2 separate regions of the Homo sapiens genome follow, and region 1 is linked to region 2. A link means that fine-mapping ties the variant in region 2 to the expression of a gene that starts in the linked region. Tissue or cell type: gastroesophageal junction. Region 2 holds a variant in brackets; the other region holds the start of a gene. All regions are shown on one strand. Distances are from middle to middle.

What was found. PIP is the estimated chance that this variant, and not a neighbour inherited with it, causes the effect.
Region 1: PCOLCE2 starts here. The variant in region 2 is fine-mapped to the expression of PCOLCE2 in gastroesophageal junction (GTEx, PIP 0.96).

Annotation. Positions count from the first base shown.
Region 1 is chr3:142,884,298-142,892,429 of GRCh38, forward strand. It overlaps PCOLCE2 (procollagen C-endopeptidase enhancer 2), which reads right to left and starts at 4,786. Exons shown (of 9, transcript NM_013363.4): 1 at 4,517-4,786; 2 at 3,372-3,480. The coding sequence starts at 4,599. It overlaps LOC124909443 (a long non-coding RNA gene), which reads left to right and starts at 3,967. Exons shown (of 2, transcript XR_007096122.1): 1 at 3,967-4,162; 2 at 5,294-6,470. RefSeq lists a silencer at 4,729-4,778.
Region 2 is chr3:141,893,132-141,901,131 of GRCh38, forward strand. All of the region lies in intron 1 of ATP1B3 (ATPase Na+/K+ transporting subunit beta 3), which reads left to right. Among named protein-coding and RNA genes, the nearest start is that of ATP1B3, 20 kb to the left of the region's middle. The variant G/A (reference allele first, on the strand shown) is at 3,007.

The sequences.
Region 1 (8,132 bases), 990 kb after region 2:
TAGGGTGACTTATGCCTCACCCCAACCCTATTGTTCTTCCAAGCCTGCTTAGAAGACCAGTCACTACTTTCCAAAGGATTATATATACCTTAGCTGTCAAATCACATTTAACTCATACCCACGTCCCCGTATTTGAGAATTAGGGGATTTTATGCAGATGCCTTTTAGGTTATAGTCCCCAGAATCAACTCCTACAGTAAACTAAGAAACTCTCAACCCCATCATGGATTACAAAATATTCAACTATTTCTTAACACCCAAATTCTCTAATTTAGTCTCTAAGCATACATTTTTGAGAACACATACAGTAAAAGTAAAAAACCTAAGACCTGTTAAGGCCATCAACTCTTGGTGATAAAGCTGAGTCAAGAGTCTTGAGTTCCAGTTACAGCTCCAACAACTACAAAGAACCAGTAGCAGCTTCCCTATTTGCAAAGCAGAAGTACAACTAAGCAGCACAGAGCACCTCTGTCCTCAACATTTTACGTGAGTAAAATTAAGCATAAAATTTTTCTATTAATAGCACAGCACTGTCCACAAGAAAAATTGTGATGACAGAAATACTATATTACATATTGTCCAGTAAGGCAGCCACTATCCACATGTGGCTATTGAGCACTTGAATGTGGCTAGTATGACTAAGAAACTAAATGTTTAACTTAATTTACATTTAAATAGCCAATACAGTGTGTTGGAACAATGCAGCTGTCTAAGAAATTGCTATAAAAATTTTAAAGTACTATAATGTAAGGACACATCTAAATTTCCAATCTGCAGGCTGTACTTTCGCATCAGAAAGTCCAACACGAAGGACTGGAAGTTTGGTGGTAACAACTAGGATTCACCTTTCTTAAAGCAAAAGTTAAAATCAGACATTTCCCATTCTTGCATTGATATGATAGAGTTTAATGAAAACCATTTAGCGGTGAAAGCTACCATGCTGGGACACATCTCCAGTTTGGACGAACAGAATGGGAGGCCAGTGAGTGAAAGCAAGATATTTCCCCCCAGCTACAGGAACTACAGTTTAAGGACCACTCTGAGGCTTTCCCATCTCCAGCGGCCTCTGTGATATTTTAATAAAAGTGATACTGAATCACTCAATGGGAACACTATTCTTGGTTTACTGACTGCAGGAACAGAAAAATGGGCTGGACCAACCAGCGTGGGAAAAACCTTTAATAGATGGCCTTGGACAAGGCCATAGTAGAGCACAGTCCTGTCTGGAATGGCTAAGCAGGGAGACAGAGCCTGGTGCATGTATCCTTCTAGCTGGTGCCACTATATCCTAACCGCAGGCAGAGCTGCTGAGAAAACACTGTGGGCAGAAGACTCCGCATTTCTTCATCTTCTCTGCTACCACCTTGTCTACTCCACCATCTTCCCTCTCCTGGATACCACAACAGCTTCCTAATTGGTCTCTCTGCCTCTACTCTTAACTCCCTACAGTTCATCTTCCACGCAGACACCAGATAAGCTCATTCCTCTGCTTAAGATCTTCCAGTGACTCCTACTCAAAACAAAATTCAAACTCTCCACCGTGGCCTACAGAGTCCTGTTTACCTTCTTCGCTTCTCTTCCCACTGTCCCCTTGCTCATTCCATTCCAGCCACTCCAACCTCCTTAATTTGTTCTTCAGACAAATCAAGCTTCTTCCCACTCAGGCACTGAGTTGAAGCATTTTACACTATCTCATTTTGTCTTCACAGTAATCCTAAGGTTTAAAGGAGGTAGATCCTGGACACACAGTTTATGGCGGTGAAACTGGAATTTGAATCCAGGGAAGTGACTGCTGAGCTCACAGGCTTTCCCTTCACAGGACATCCAGATGGAGCATCCATTTAACTTCCCCACTCCCACACAGGAAATCATGCCTCTCCTGAGGCAAACCGTTCCTTTATCAAGGAAAGCTTTCACTGGACGTGCCCCCCAACCCCAGTCAAAGTGTAAAGTCACATCAACCTGTCCGCAATACTCAGAACACATGGCCAACCATGAATTTCTACTTGGGCACATGACGCCTCTGAGCCATTGATTTTCTAGGGTCGTTTAAAACTTATGGCCATTTAATTACATTTAAAACACAATCACGACATGAAAATCAAGCTGCTTTTATTTTTGTTTCAGAGACTTATTTGACATTTATGTTAATAGTATTTCAAACTTATTTTCTATGACTTCTTTCCTGGCCACATGTGCTATAATAACATAATGAAATCTGTACCAGTTTGTGACATGGTTGGCATTTTACAAGAGGCCGTCAAGGCATGTAAGAGCTGAGTTTTATATTATGGAAGGGGACCTCTCATATCTGCCTGCAAAATGACCTCAGTGGGAATACCTTATTGCAAAGTAGGTTTTACTTTTACATAAAGTTGGGCTTCCCGACTGTCTGATCAAGTCAATTTCTATAATTGTTTCAGGCCTCAGCTTCCCCATCTATAAAATAGGGATGATAATAGATACTTTCTCATACAGTTGTTTTGAGGATTCTGGGTGATTATACTTGCTAACTACTTGGCATGGTAAATGCCTGGCACACAGTAACTGCTAGTTTACACATTCAGTGGGGGCTACTTTTTAAAAAATCTAAGTCCTCCAGTGGCACAATCTGACTGAAAGAAGCTCTCAGTGAACCAACGTATTCAATTACTAAACAACTTCCCAACAACGAAAAAGTGAAGAAGGTAACAGTCAATGCTATGCTGACTGGAAAGATGACTCACTCTAGTTGACTCTAAATCAGTTAAAAAATATATGGCTGTCTCTAAATCCAGCTTATCTTGACTCAGCATAATCTATGTTATTACTAATCAGCATGGACTTTTTATTGGCCCTTGGCTGCTATTTAGATTCCCACCCCCCCATTCTCTATTCTTAGACTGCCTTTAGAGGTGGTTTCAACCCAGGAACATTAAGTGGGCTTTTTTTATTTTTTTTCTTTTTCCTTTCCTAATGAGCATAGAGTAGTCAAAGCACTATCTTTGATCTTCCATTTCCCACTGGGAATTTATGAAGGCACGAGCAACAAAAAACTTATGAAGGTCATTACAACAGGCCTTTGACTGAAAACAGCTTTAATTATGAATCTATAAAACTCAACTGAGTCACACTGGGCTTTCAGAAACACATCTGCTCTGAGAATTTATTCCTTCAAGCATTATCTTGTGCCCTTTGTAATCACTAATGCAGGACACGACTAGATCTATTATATTAATAAAAATCTTCCCAATAGTTGGGGTAAATCCAACATTTCACTATTTCAGGCATTTGCCTCTTACTCAAATCCTAACACCAGAGGAAAAAGGCAGCAGCCTCACACTGTTGCCAACACCCACTTCCAGGAGAATACCTTTTTAAAAAATGCTTACTGTGATTTTCCAAGTACATTTGCTATTTGGAGGGTACACTCCAGGAAAACCTTCACTGCCAATAAATCCAGACTCTCCAGTAAGAATGCCACCACATGTGAAAACAGGTCTGGGAACATAAAAGAAGAAAAGATAATGTAATTTGAAACATGGTCTAACAATCTGATGTTACCTTCAGAAAGGTGTAGCCTATTAATATAAATAAAAGTTAATGTTGATTAATCAATGCTTGCACCATATAAGGGATCTGAAAATTTGCTAGCTCCTAGAATATTTAAATTATAGCCTGACAAAGCATTCAGTCCAGCGCCATCTGTCTCCATCATAATAACACAAGATTATATATATGTATAATCAAGTCCTCGGCATTGTGGCAAAGTCTTGTAGGAAAATGGTAAATACATCAATTTAACTGGGGGAGTGGGAGAGAAGGTAAGAGCCAGGCTGAATGAGAAGCATGGTTTTAAAGAAAGACAGGCAAGCAATTGGTTAATATAAAAAAAGTTTGTCGTTCCCATATTTGGAGAGATGCCCAGTTCTCCTCCCCCTTTCTGAAAATCACTCGCCATTGGCAGAGCTTCCCATCGAAAGGGAGGCTGATGTTGATGGAGGCTGAAGAGGTGATGCCAAAGTTGGCCACCGGGCAGGTCCCACAGCCCAGCTCCTGGGGCCTTCCAGAGGTTGGCGAAGAGTTAACTTTCCGGAGCGGCTCCCTAGGCGCCGCGCCGCTAGGGTTGTTCCCTAGTTTACGTCTCTGGGCAAAGCCTCTCGGGGAAGGAAAAAAAACAGCGGTAAACCAAAATCCACATATTTGGGCCCCAGTGCTTCCCTCTGGCCCCATAGACACGAGGAGAGGGGAGACACAAGTCAGATTAAGCCCCGCCACGTGGTGGCCAAGCCAGCTGCAGGGCCATCCGGCAGGCCGGGCTGGGGACCCAGGAGGGAGCCCCGCGAGCAAGGATGGGTCCCGAAGTCCCGGGCTTAGCCTACCCGAGGGTGGCGGACGCCTGCACCGCGCGGGAGCGCAGGGTCGAGCGCTGGGTCACCCAGGCGCGCCGAAGCGGGTTGAGTAAAGCAGCAGGCGAGGCTGCAGGGGTGGAGGAAGGGAAAGGAGAGAAAGGGAGCCCGGGCAGGGGTCGCGTTACCTCTCTGGGGACTGCTGCCGCGAGAGCTGGGTGGCGGCAGCCAGCAGCAGGCAGAGTGGCGCCCAGGCGTTCGCGCCCCTCATGGCAGCGTAGACGCTCGGGGTTTGCACCCCACGGCGCGCGCGCCGGCACACACGCCCCTCCGCACCCACCGCGCTCACACCGCCGCTCACACTGGCAGCAGCGCTGGCTCACACCGGCGCTCGGCTGCCCGCGCGCTCCCTCTCACGCGCGCACCGCCGCGGGGCGGCCCAGGTAGCCGGGGGATACGCGGCCGGCAGGGCGGAGGCACTTTTAAAGGCGATTATGGTGCCGTCTGACTCGACGCTTAGTTTCCCCTGAGGAGCTGCTCTGGCAGCCACAGGCCACTGCTGAATATCCCGTTTGTTCTCCGGCGGCAGGAGGGGCGGCTCCGAGGCCAGAGCCGCCCCCTCTCGTGGGGCGGGCGAACGTCTCCTCCCGGCACCCCGGGACCGACGGGTCCTCTCTCGTCCAGCCCTCAGGGACCCCGGGGAGAAGAGGAACCCCTTGCGGAGTGGCACCCCAGCGGCCCGGGCCCCGACGCCCAGAGACGATTCTCAGGGAGGGCTTCTGGTTTTGCTTTGGGGAATGTTTTTCCCAGTTGCTTTTAAATAAAAAGTAATAGCGCTTGCTGGCTGCTGGAAAGCCTGGGGGTCCTTCTTTGTCTCCTTCAAAACCCAGATCCAAGGAAAGAAAGGGAAAAGGGATTTTATTGTATTTTAACTTCTGTGCTTATTCTCCTCTCTCTCTCTCTAGATACTTTTCTTTTTTTTACTGGTATGACAATGACAAGGAAGACAGTCTCTGTGCCGGGATTTAAACACGGGTTTTCAGGCGAGCGATTTCTGTGTGAACTGTCATTAAATGTCAGATAATGAAGACGGAACCAAATCAGCAAATCTCACCATCCCATGTCATGTTCTGAAAATGGTGTTTCTCTGCTTGCATCTCTCTGTTCTTAGACCTTTCCAACAGCATCTTTCTGTGGTATTAACGGGTTAAAATTTACGGAGAATTCGTTTTTCTTAGACGAACAATTCTAGCCTTGTGGAATCAATACTCTCTTTTACTTAATTACAGAAATATAATTTTAAACATTTATTTTGTTAAGAGCTTCCCAATAACCAGGGATTAATAAAAGAATGACAGGAACAGACTAGATTCATAGAGATTTTTAATAATCACCAGCTATGGGAGATACAGCTTAACTTTGATGCCTCACGTTGTTCCTTCTAAATTGTTTTCACCTTTCTAAGCAAGAAAATTAAGTATTAAAGTAGTTCTTATCGAGACTTTATTTCTAATAATGAGCTGTTAAGAATCTAAACACGGGTGGGCGCGATGGCCCACGCCTGTAATCCCAGCACTTTTGGAGGCCGAGGCGGGCGGATCACGAGGTCAGGAGTTCGAAACCAGTCTGGCCAAGATGGTGAAACCCCGCCTCGACTAAAAATACAAAAAATTAGCCAGGTGTTGCGGTGTGCGTCTGTAATCCCGGGTACTCGGGAAGCTGAGGCAGAAGTATCGCGTGAACCCGGGAGGCGGAGGTTGCAGTGAGCCGAGATCACGCCATTGCACTCCAGCCCCGGGCGACAGAGTGAGACTCCATCTCAAAAAAGAAAAAAAAAAAAAAAAGAACCTAAACACTCCTGGCAAGGAAGTAAGTAAAACTGGCTACAGGAAATATTCTGACTTTTCATAGTGAGTGCACCCTGAAGCCTATACTAGGAACCAGAATATACGGACAGGACTTAGATTATCTTACCATTTTTTTAAAAAGTGAAGGCAAAAACATCATAAAGTACAACTTTCAAAACTTCTCTACAGGCACCACACCCTTTATGACATTAAAAAAAAGGGTGACAGAATTTGGCAAACTGCTTTATATCCTGAAACACTCTCAACCCAATAAAAATGTCTTTAAAACAGGGAAGAGGAGAATAAATGGTTGTTGATTTTGCACGCATTTCAAGAATATGCTATCTAATAGCATAAGTGTTTTTAGATAATTGTTTATTTGAAAGTCATAGTTTTAAATTATAAAGGGAAATATTGCTCAATTCACTTTCTGGTAATGATTTGCAGTCCTCGTAAACCAGAAAATACTTCATTCAGGACTAAGCTAAGTTTTCAAAATTTAAAATAAATAACAAAGTATTAAATGTGCCTAAATAGGAAACTATTTGAACTAAAATACACAGCCATTTCTTAATTTATAGATTGATGACTGTGTTCATATGCTCACTAAAGAGTTAGGATTTTAACACCAATCATTCTGTTGTTGACACTCATAAGACATTGATTTTACCATGTGATTTTAGAATTTACTAAAACCCATATTATTGGCTCTTAAAAACACATATTTGACTTGGAACTACAGTTCTGACCAAAATTATAAACCTTAAATGTCCTGAGAAGTTGATGTGTTAAAATTGAGAGACTTTTATTAGTTTGTTCTCACGCCGCTATGAAGAAATACCCGAGACTGGGTAATTTATAAAGAAAAGAAGTTTAATTGACTCACAGTTTCACATGGCTGGGGAGTCCTCAGGAAACTTATAATCATGGCAGAAGGCACCTCCTCACAGGGTGATAGGAGAAGGGGAAAAGCCCCTTACAAAACCATCAGCTCTCATGAGCATTCACTCACCACCAGGAGAACAGCATGGGGGAAACCATTCCCACGATTCAATTACCTCCACCTGGTCCCACCCTTGACACCTGGGGATTATTACAATTCAAGGTGAGATTTGGGTGGAGACACAGCCAAACCATATCAAGACTCAAGTGCACTTTGAAGGTATATGTAAGGTCCATCTCTGTGAGACCAGTTTCTGGACTTGTGTGATAACAGAATTAGTATAATGGACAAGGAGCTACCCCCACAGGCAGTAGAAAAGTGGAGAGAGAAAAAGAACAAAAGCCCTGTGGGTAGATTCTTTAAAACAAAAAGTGGAGTGGTGGGTGAACTGATCCTTATTATCCAGCCTCTGCTGTTACCAGGTTGCACAGAGAATCAGCATCATGGGAATATGAAAATATTCACCAATGAACTGACCACTTATAAAATTAGGCCCCACTCAAACATTCCTTGCTACACAATGCTAGTATCTAGCTGGGCCCAATATGTCAACATTGTCAGCTAATCTCTGATTCACTCATCAACCTTGTAAACGTCTGAAAATGTCGTGTAAATCCATTGCACATTTATTCCATAGTGCGGTACTCATCTTGTAAAAAATCCGGAATGTTCATAAGTTAGTTCACACTGGGCACGGTGGCTCAGGCCTGTAATCCCAGCACTTTGGGAGGCAGAGGTGGGCAGGTCACTTGAGCCCAGGAGTTCAAGATCAACCTGGCCAACATGGTGAAACCTTGTCTCTACCAAAAATACAAACGTTAATTGGGCGTGGTGATGGGCGCCTGTAATCCCAGCTACTCGGGAGGCTGAGACACAAGAATCGCTTGAACCCAGGAGGCAGAGGTTGCAGCGAGCCGAGATCACGGCACTGCACTCCACCCTGGGCGACAGAGTGGGATTCCATCTAAAAAAAAAAAAAATTCAGTGTTTTTTGATGTCTGTAAACACACATTA
Region 2 (8,000 bases):
TCGAGTAGCTGGGATTACAGGCACGCACCACCACACCTGACTAATTTTTTTATTTTTAGTAGAGACGGGGTTTCACCATGTTGGCCAAGCTGGTCTCGAACTCCTGATCTCAAGCTATCCACCCGCCTTGGCCTCCTAAAGTGCTAAGATTACAGACGTGAGCCACCACACCCAGCTCTCTTTATTCTTGATGTTCTAAAATTTTACCTTTTTATTTCTAGGTATAGGATGTTTTCCAGTATTTTTTAACATTTCCAATCTAGACACAAGCTTGTTATTTCTTTGAGAGTTCTTGCCCCACCCTCTTTTCCTGTGGAGTTCCTATTAGATTTGTTTGTATTTCTGGTTCTCTCCCCAATGTCTCAACAATTTTTCATATACTCCTTCTCTGTTAGCCCACTGTCATAGAATACCTGACTTGATCTTTAGCTCACTGAATTTTTCTTCAGCTTGACCAGTTCTCCTGAGGTTAAGTTTTTGTTTGTCTTTAACAGCTTTATTGAGGTATAATTAACATACAATAAACTGCACATATTTGAAGTTTTGGTATACACTCATGTATATGTGTGTGCATATGCTGTATTCATGAAACTGTCACTGTAATCAAGATAATGAACATTTATCACCCCAAACATTCCCTCTTGGCACTTTGTAACCCATCTCTGTTCTTACCTTCCCAGGCTCCAAGCAAAAATCTGCTTTTTGACAGTCTGTATTAAATACAGCCATGCCTTCTGAGAAATGTGCTTAGCTGTGTTCATTGATTTCATTGTTGTGCAGACATTATAAAGTGGACTTACACAAATCTAGATGGCATAGCCCTCTAGACATATAGGCCATATGGTATAGACTGTTGCTCCTAGCTGCAAACTTGTACAACATGTTACTGGATGAATACTGTTAGCAATTGTAACACAATGGTAAGTATTTGTCTGTAAACATATCTCAACATAGAAAAGGTACAGTAAAAATACCATGTAAACATAAAAAATGGTATACCTGTATAGGGCACTGACCTTGAATGGAGCTTGCAGGACTACAGTTGCAGTGAGTGAGTGGTGAGTGAATGTGAAGGCCTAGAACATTACTGTACCCTACTGTAGACTTTATAAACACTGTACACTTAGGCTACACTAAATTTATTAAAATTTTTTTTACTTCAGTAATAACCTTAGCTTACTGTAACTTTTTACAATTTTTTTTTTTAATTGAGATGGGGTCTTGCTATGTTGCCCAGGCTGGTCTCGAACTCCTGGCTTCAAGCAATCTTCCCATCTCAGCCTCCCAAAGCTATGGGATTGCAGGTGTGAGCCTTCATACCCAGCGACTTTATATACTTTTAATAACACTTAGCTTTTAAAGCACAAACACATTGTACAGCTGCATAAAAATATTTTCTTTATATCCTTATTCTATAACATTTTTTCTATTTAAAAGTTTTAACTTTTTAAACTTTTTTGTTAAAAACTAAGACACAAACATGCACATTAGCCTAGACCTACACAGAGTCAGAATCATCAGTATCACCGTCTTCCACCTTCATCTCTTGCCCCACTGGAAGGTCTTCAGGGGCAGCAACACGCATGGGGCTGTCCTCTGTGATGACAATGCCTTCTTCTGGATACCTCCTGAAGGATTGCCTGAGGCTTTTTACAGTTAACTTTGTAAGTAGAAGGAGTACACTATAAAATAACAACAAAAAGTATAGCATAGTAAATATATAAACCCATAGCAGTTTATTATCATTATTAAGTATTATGCATTGTACACAGTTGTTGCATACTAGACTTTTATGTGACTGGTAGGTTTGTTTATACCAGCATTGCTACAGACACGTGAGTAATGCATTGTGTTGCGACATCACTAGGCCATAGGAATTTTTCAGCTTTATTATGATCTTAATGGGACTATTGTTGTGTATGCAGTCTGTCACTGACTGAAATGTTACGTGGTGTATGTCTGTATGTGGAATCATGCTTTATGTTTTTTTTGGGGGGAGGGTCTCATAGGAGATGACAGCTCCTGTGCATGTTATTGTCTCTTTTTTCTTTCTTTTCTTTTTTTTTTTTTTTTTTAAGATGGACTCTTACCCTGTTGCCCGGGCTGGAGTGCAGTGGCGTGATCTCAGCTCGCTGCAACCTCTGCCTCCCGTGTTCAAGCAATTCTCCTGCCTCAGCCTCCCGAGTAGCTAGGATTACAGGTGCCCGCTACCATGCCTGGCTAATTTTTTGTATTTTTAGTAGAGACTGGGTTTCACCACGTTGGCCAGGCTGGTCTCTAACTCCTGACCTCAGGTGATGCACCTGCCTCAGCCTCTCAAAGTACTGGGATTACAAGCGTGAGCCACTGCGTCCCGCCTCTTTTTTCTTTAGCATAATTATTTTGAGATCCATCTGTGTTTCCATGTGTATCCACAGTTCTTATTGCTGAATAGTATTGCATTGTATGGATATAGCCAAATTTATTAATTCAACTGTTGGTGGATATTTGGGTTGTTTGCAGTTTTCAGTGATTATAAATAAAGTGTCTGAACATTCACATTTCCCTACTGTGTGAACATGGGCTTTTATTTTTCTTGGGTAAATATCTAGAAGTAGATTGGCTGGATCTTTTGGTAGGTGTGCATGTTGCTAACTTTTCAAAAAATTGTCAAACTTTTCTTTTTCTTTTTAAAAACAACAACAGCAACAAAAAACATTCCCACCAGCAGGATGTGAGAGTTTCAGTTGCTCCACTTCTGGGTCATTACATGGTACGGTCAGTCTTTAAAATTTCTAGCATTCTGGTGGGTATGTAGTGGAGCTCATTATAGTTTTGATTTCTCTTCCCTGGTGACTAATGATTTGGAACACACTTTTTATGGGCTTATTTTTGCAATCCTTACATCTTGGTGAAGTTTCGGTTCAGATCTTTTGCCTGCTTCAAAAAATGTGTCTTGGACTGGGTGCGGTGGCTCACACTTCTAACCCCAGCACTTTGGGAGGCCAGGGTGGGAGGATCACTTGA[G/A]TCCAGGAGTTTGAGAGCAGCCTGGACAACAGAGCAAAATCCCCTTCTCGGCTGGGGATGATGGTTCACGCCTGTAATTCTAGTACTTTGGGAGGCCGAGGCAGGAGGATCACTTGAAGTCAGGAATTCAAGAACAGCCTGGCCAATATGGTGAAACCCCATCTCTAGTAAAATTACAAAAAAAAAAAATTTTCTTAAGAAGACCCCCTTCTGTACAAAAAAAATTTTTTTTAATTAGCTGGGCACGGTGGTATGTGCCTGTAGTCCTAGCTACTGGGGAGGCTGGGGCAGGAGGATTGCTTGAGCCCAGGAGTTTGAGGCTGCAGGGAGCTATGATTGATTGTGCCACTGCACTCCAGCTTGGGCAGCAGAACGAGACCCTGTCTCTAAAATAAAATAAGTAATATGTTTTGTTGTAAAAGTTCTTCATATATTCTAGATAGGAGTGAGTCATTTATTTTATGTTTTGCAAATATTTTTTCCCAGTCTTTGGTTTGCTTTTTCATTTTCATAACTGTCTGGGTTCTTCTTCAGTTTTGATTCTTCTTCAGTTAAGCTTTTCTACTAAGTTTTTTATTTCAATAATCAGAATATGATATCTAATTTTTAAAAATTATCCTTCACCTTCTACTGTTTTAATTATGCTTATTTTTCTTTGTTCTATTTGCTGATACAGCCCAGTGTTTTCAGGCATTGCTGTCTTTGTTGAGTTTGGTACTTTTCTTTATGGATTAGTTTTATTTTGAATGTGTGATAATTATTGGTTTTGTGCTCCTCTTCTGTGTGTTTAGACTTTCCTATTACAACATTCAGGGATGGAGGTAGCCTGTATAGCCAAGAGCAGCCTGGGTGTGGAGGCTGTCTGCTCCTGTAACCTTTCACCAACCCATTCAGAACATGGCCCACTTTTCCAGCCCAAGCTCCCTGTTCCCACTTCAAGCAGATGCTGCTGCTACTGTTGCTAGTTGCTTGGCACCAGGGGCTCATGCATACTGAGAGAAGCAAAGCTGTGCTCACCTGACTGCTCCTGCTGTGGTACTCCATCTCATCACCTAGTCTTTGACCCAGAGCTCCCTCCTCCTCTCCATCTTTGGTGAGCCAACTACCTTATTTCTGGGTGGCCTTCTCTGATGTCCCTTTTCTTCCTCTTCCTGCTAGAGAGGATTCTTTTTGTTTTTTTTCCTAGCATCCAGTATCTATAATTCATTGTTTACATATTTGTCATTTGTAATAACTGAACTCTTGTAGAGAAGCAGCAGATATTATTCACATGTGAATTTCTATCACCCTGAGTAACACAGAATACTTGAATGAGACATTTTTATTTAGAGAATGGGAGTTTTAATAGAAAAGACAATAGAGCTTGAGACTCCCTGGGAGAGCAGGCCAGACATGGAGAGATACTGGTCTATTTCTTTTACTGGTAGGTTAATCTTAGGCAGGTTATTTAATCTTGTTTAATCTTTTATATTACAATAATTTTAATTATATAAAATGTGAGAGTGTGTGTATACATACATATATGTGCATACATTTTATTAAAACAGTACATGTTCATCGGGTTTTTGTTTTTGTTTTTTGTTTTATTTTGAGACAGAGTCTCACTCTGACACCCAGGCTGGAGTGCAATGGCACAATCTTGGCTCACTGCAACCTCTGCCTCCTAGGCTGAAGCGATTCTCCCACCTCAGCCTCCTAAGTAGCTAGGATTACAGGTACATGCTACCATGCCCAGCTAATTTTTGTAATTTTAGTAGAGACTGGTTTTCACCATGTTGGCCAGGCTGGTCTCGAACTCCTGACCTCAGGTGATCTGCCTGCCTCGGCCTCTCAAAGTGCTGGGATTATAGGCATGAGCCACTGTGCCTGGCCAACAAATAGTTTTTTAAACAGTAGTGGGACAACTGGATCTTTCCATGCAGAACAATGTAGGTGGACCCCTACCTCAAACCATATACAAAAATTAACTCAAAATGGATCAAAGACCCAAACTTAAGAGCTAATTTATAAAATTCTTAGAAGTAAACATAGATGCAAGTCTTTATGACCTTGGATTAGTCAGTGTTATTTTAGATATGCCACCAAAAGCACAAGCAACCAAAGAAAAAATAGATAAGTGGTTCTTCATCAAAATTAATAACTTTTTTGCTTAAATAACATTATTAGGAAAGTAAAAGGATAACTTGTGGAATGGGAGAAAATAATTGCACATTATATATTTGGTAAGGGGCTTGTATCTATATATAAATAACTTCTAGAACTTAATAAAAAAGGCAGATAACCAAATCTAAAAATGAGAAAATGATCTGAATAGACAGTTCTCTGTAGAAAATATACAGATAACCAATGAGTTTATGAAAAAATGCCCAGCATCATTAGCCATTAGGGAAAATGCAAATTAAACCCACAAAGAGATACTACATTGTATCCACTAGGATAGCTGTATGAAAACACAGTAAAAGAAGTGTTAATGAGGTTGAGGAGGAATTGGATCCCTGCTGTAGGAGTGTAAAATGGTGAAACTGCTTTGGAAGACAGTCTACCAGTTACTCAAAAGGCTAGAGTTACCATATGACCTAGCAGTTTGACTCCCAGGTATATACCCAAGAGAAATGAAACCATTTATTTATACAAAAACTTGTGCATGAATGTTTATAACATTATTCATAATGGCCAAAAGATATAAACAACTCACATGCACATCATCTGATTAATGAATCAATAAAATATTGTATATCCATATACAGTGGGATATTATTCAGCCATAAAAAGGAATGGAGTACTGATATATGCTGTAGCATAAATGAACCTTGAAAACACCTTACATGGAAGAAGCCAGTGACAAAAGCCATGTATTACATGATTCCATTTCTAGGAAATGTCTAGAAAATAGATCTATAGAGACAAAGTAGACTAGTGATTGCCAGGAACTGGGTGCAGGGAGGGAGAGGAATGGGAATGGGTATGGAGTTTTGGGAGGAGGTGTTGAAAATATTTTAAAATTTATTGTGGTGATGCTTATACAACTCTGAATATAAAATGTAAACTTCACACTTTACATATGTGAATGGTATGCGAATAATATTGTTAAAAATCAGTATTGTTTTTAAAAATTCAAATATACAAAAGATTATAAACTTGCACCTGTTCATATAATGGATTTTTTAGAAATTATACATGTCTCTGCTTTAAAATGTTTTAAACTATAAACAGAATGCTAGTTTATTTACCAAATGGAAATGGTTGCTAGTCATCAGTATTTTCTGAGAGGCCCAATCTTTCTAGCATCTAGGTCCCTGAAGATAGCTAGAAAGTGTGCAGAGGTTGAGAGTAAGATCACAGGGTCTAGTCATGTGTTGAGGGGGCATATTTCCAGGCCCTCATGAAGCCCAGTGACTTTTCCCTGTGTCCAGATTATGTGTGCTGGTGTTGCATAATAAAGAATTTGTTGGCTGGATGCAGTGGCTCACGCCTGTAATCCCAGCACTTTGGAAGGCTGAGGCAGGCAGATCACCTGAGGTCAGGAGTTCGAGACCAGCCTGATGAACATGGAGAAACCCCGTCTCTACTAAAAATACAAAATTAGCCAGGTGTGGTGACACATGCCTGTAATCCCAGCTACTCAGGAGGCTGAGGCAGGAGAATCACTTGAACCCAGGAGGCAGAGGTTGTGGTGAGCTGAGATCACACCATTGCACTCCAGCCTAGGCAACAAGAGAGAAACTCCATCTCCAAAAAAAAGTGTCAGTTGAGTGTGGTGGCACACAACTGTAGTCCCAACTTCTCAGGAAGCTGAGACAGGAGAATCACTTGAGCCGAGGATTTTGAGGATGCAGTGAGCTTTGATTGCACCGCTGTACTCCAGCCTGGGTGACAGAGAAAGACCCTGTCTCAAAAAAAAAATTTTTTTTTTGTTTGATGTTTTTTCCAGGTTCCTGGCACAGAGCTTCTAAAGACCCTGGAATTTGAGTAGTAGGAGTGTCTTTATTATGCTAATGAAGTGACTGGCAGTGGGTCCCTAGATAGCTTCAAGATGGAGCATGGTCCCCCAGAAAGACCAAACCAAGTCCCTACATGGTTGGGACTTTGAGCTAGCCAGACCTCCAAGGAGGGCAGGAAAGAGGGCTGGAGACTGAGCTATATTGTGTGGCCTGTGGTTTAGTCAATCATACCTACATAATGAAACCCCAGTAAAAACTCTGGACACTGAAGTTCAGTGGAGCTGCCAGGTTAGGAAACACATGTGCTGGGAGGGAGATAGCCCTGATTCCTCAAGGAGAGGACACAGAAACTGCCTTGCCTCCCAGACCCCATTCTACATGTATCCTTTATAATAAAACTGAAATCCTAATTTGAGCACTTACTTTCCTGAGCTCTGTGAGTCATTCTAGTGAACAAACTTGAGGGTGCAGTGGAAACCTCCTGTATTAGTTACTAGTTGGTCAGAAGTGTGGGTAGTGGGAGGACCTCTGCAGCAGCATTTCTATGGAGGACTGAGCCCGTAGCATGGGGTAGTTGGTGCCAGAATTGAATTGTACGCCCAGTGTGGTTGAGGCAGAAGAGCTGGACAGGGCCCGTTTCTCCTTCCCCTGGATGACATGGTGGTTCCTAAGTCTTGCCAGGTTTCTTGCCTGTCTGGTTGTTTTCTTGTTTTTGTTTTTTTGAGAAGGGGTCTCTCTCTGTCACCCAGGTCGGAGTGCAGTGGCACAGTCTCGGCTCACTGCAGCCTCTGCCTCCTGGGTTCAAGCAATTCTCCCATCTCAGCCTCTCAAGTAGCTGGAATTACAGGAGTGCACCACCACGCCTGGCTATTTTTTGCATTTTTAGTAGAGACAGGGTTTCATCATATTGGCCAGGCTAGTCTCGAACTCCTGACCTCAGGTGATCTGCCCGCCTTGGCCTCCCAAAGTGCTGGGATTACAGGCGTGAGCCACTGCACCTGGCCCATGTTAGTTTCTTTAGTTGGGTAATAAGGAAATTTCTTGAAAGATTTT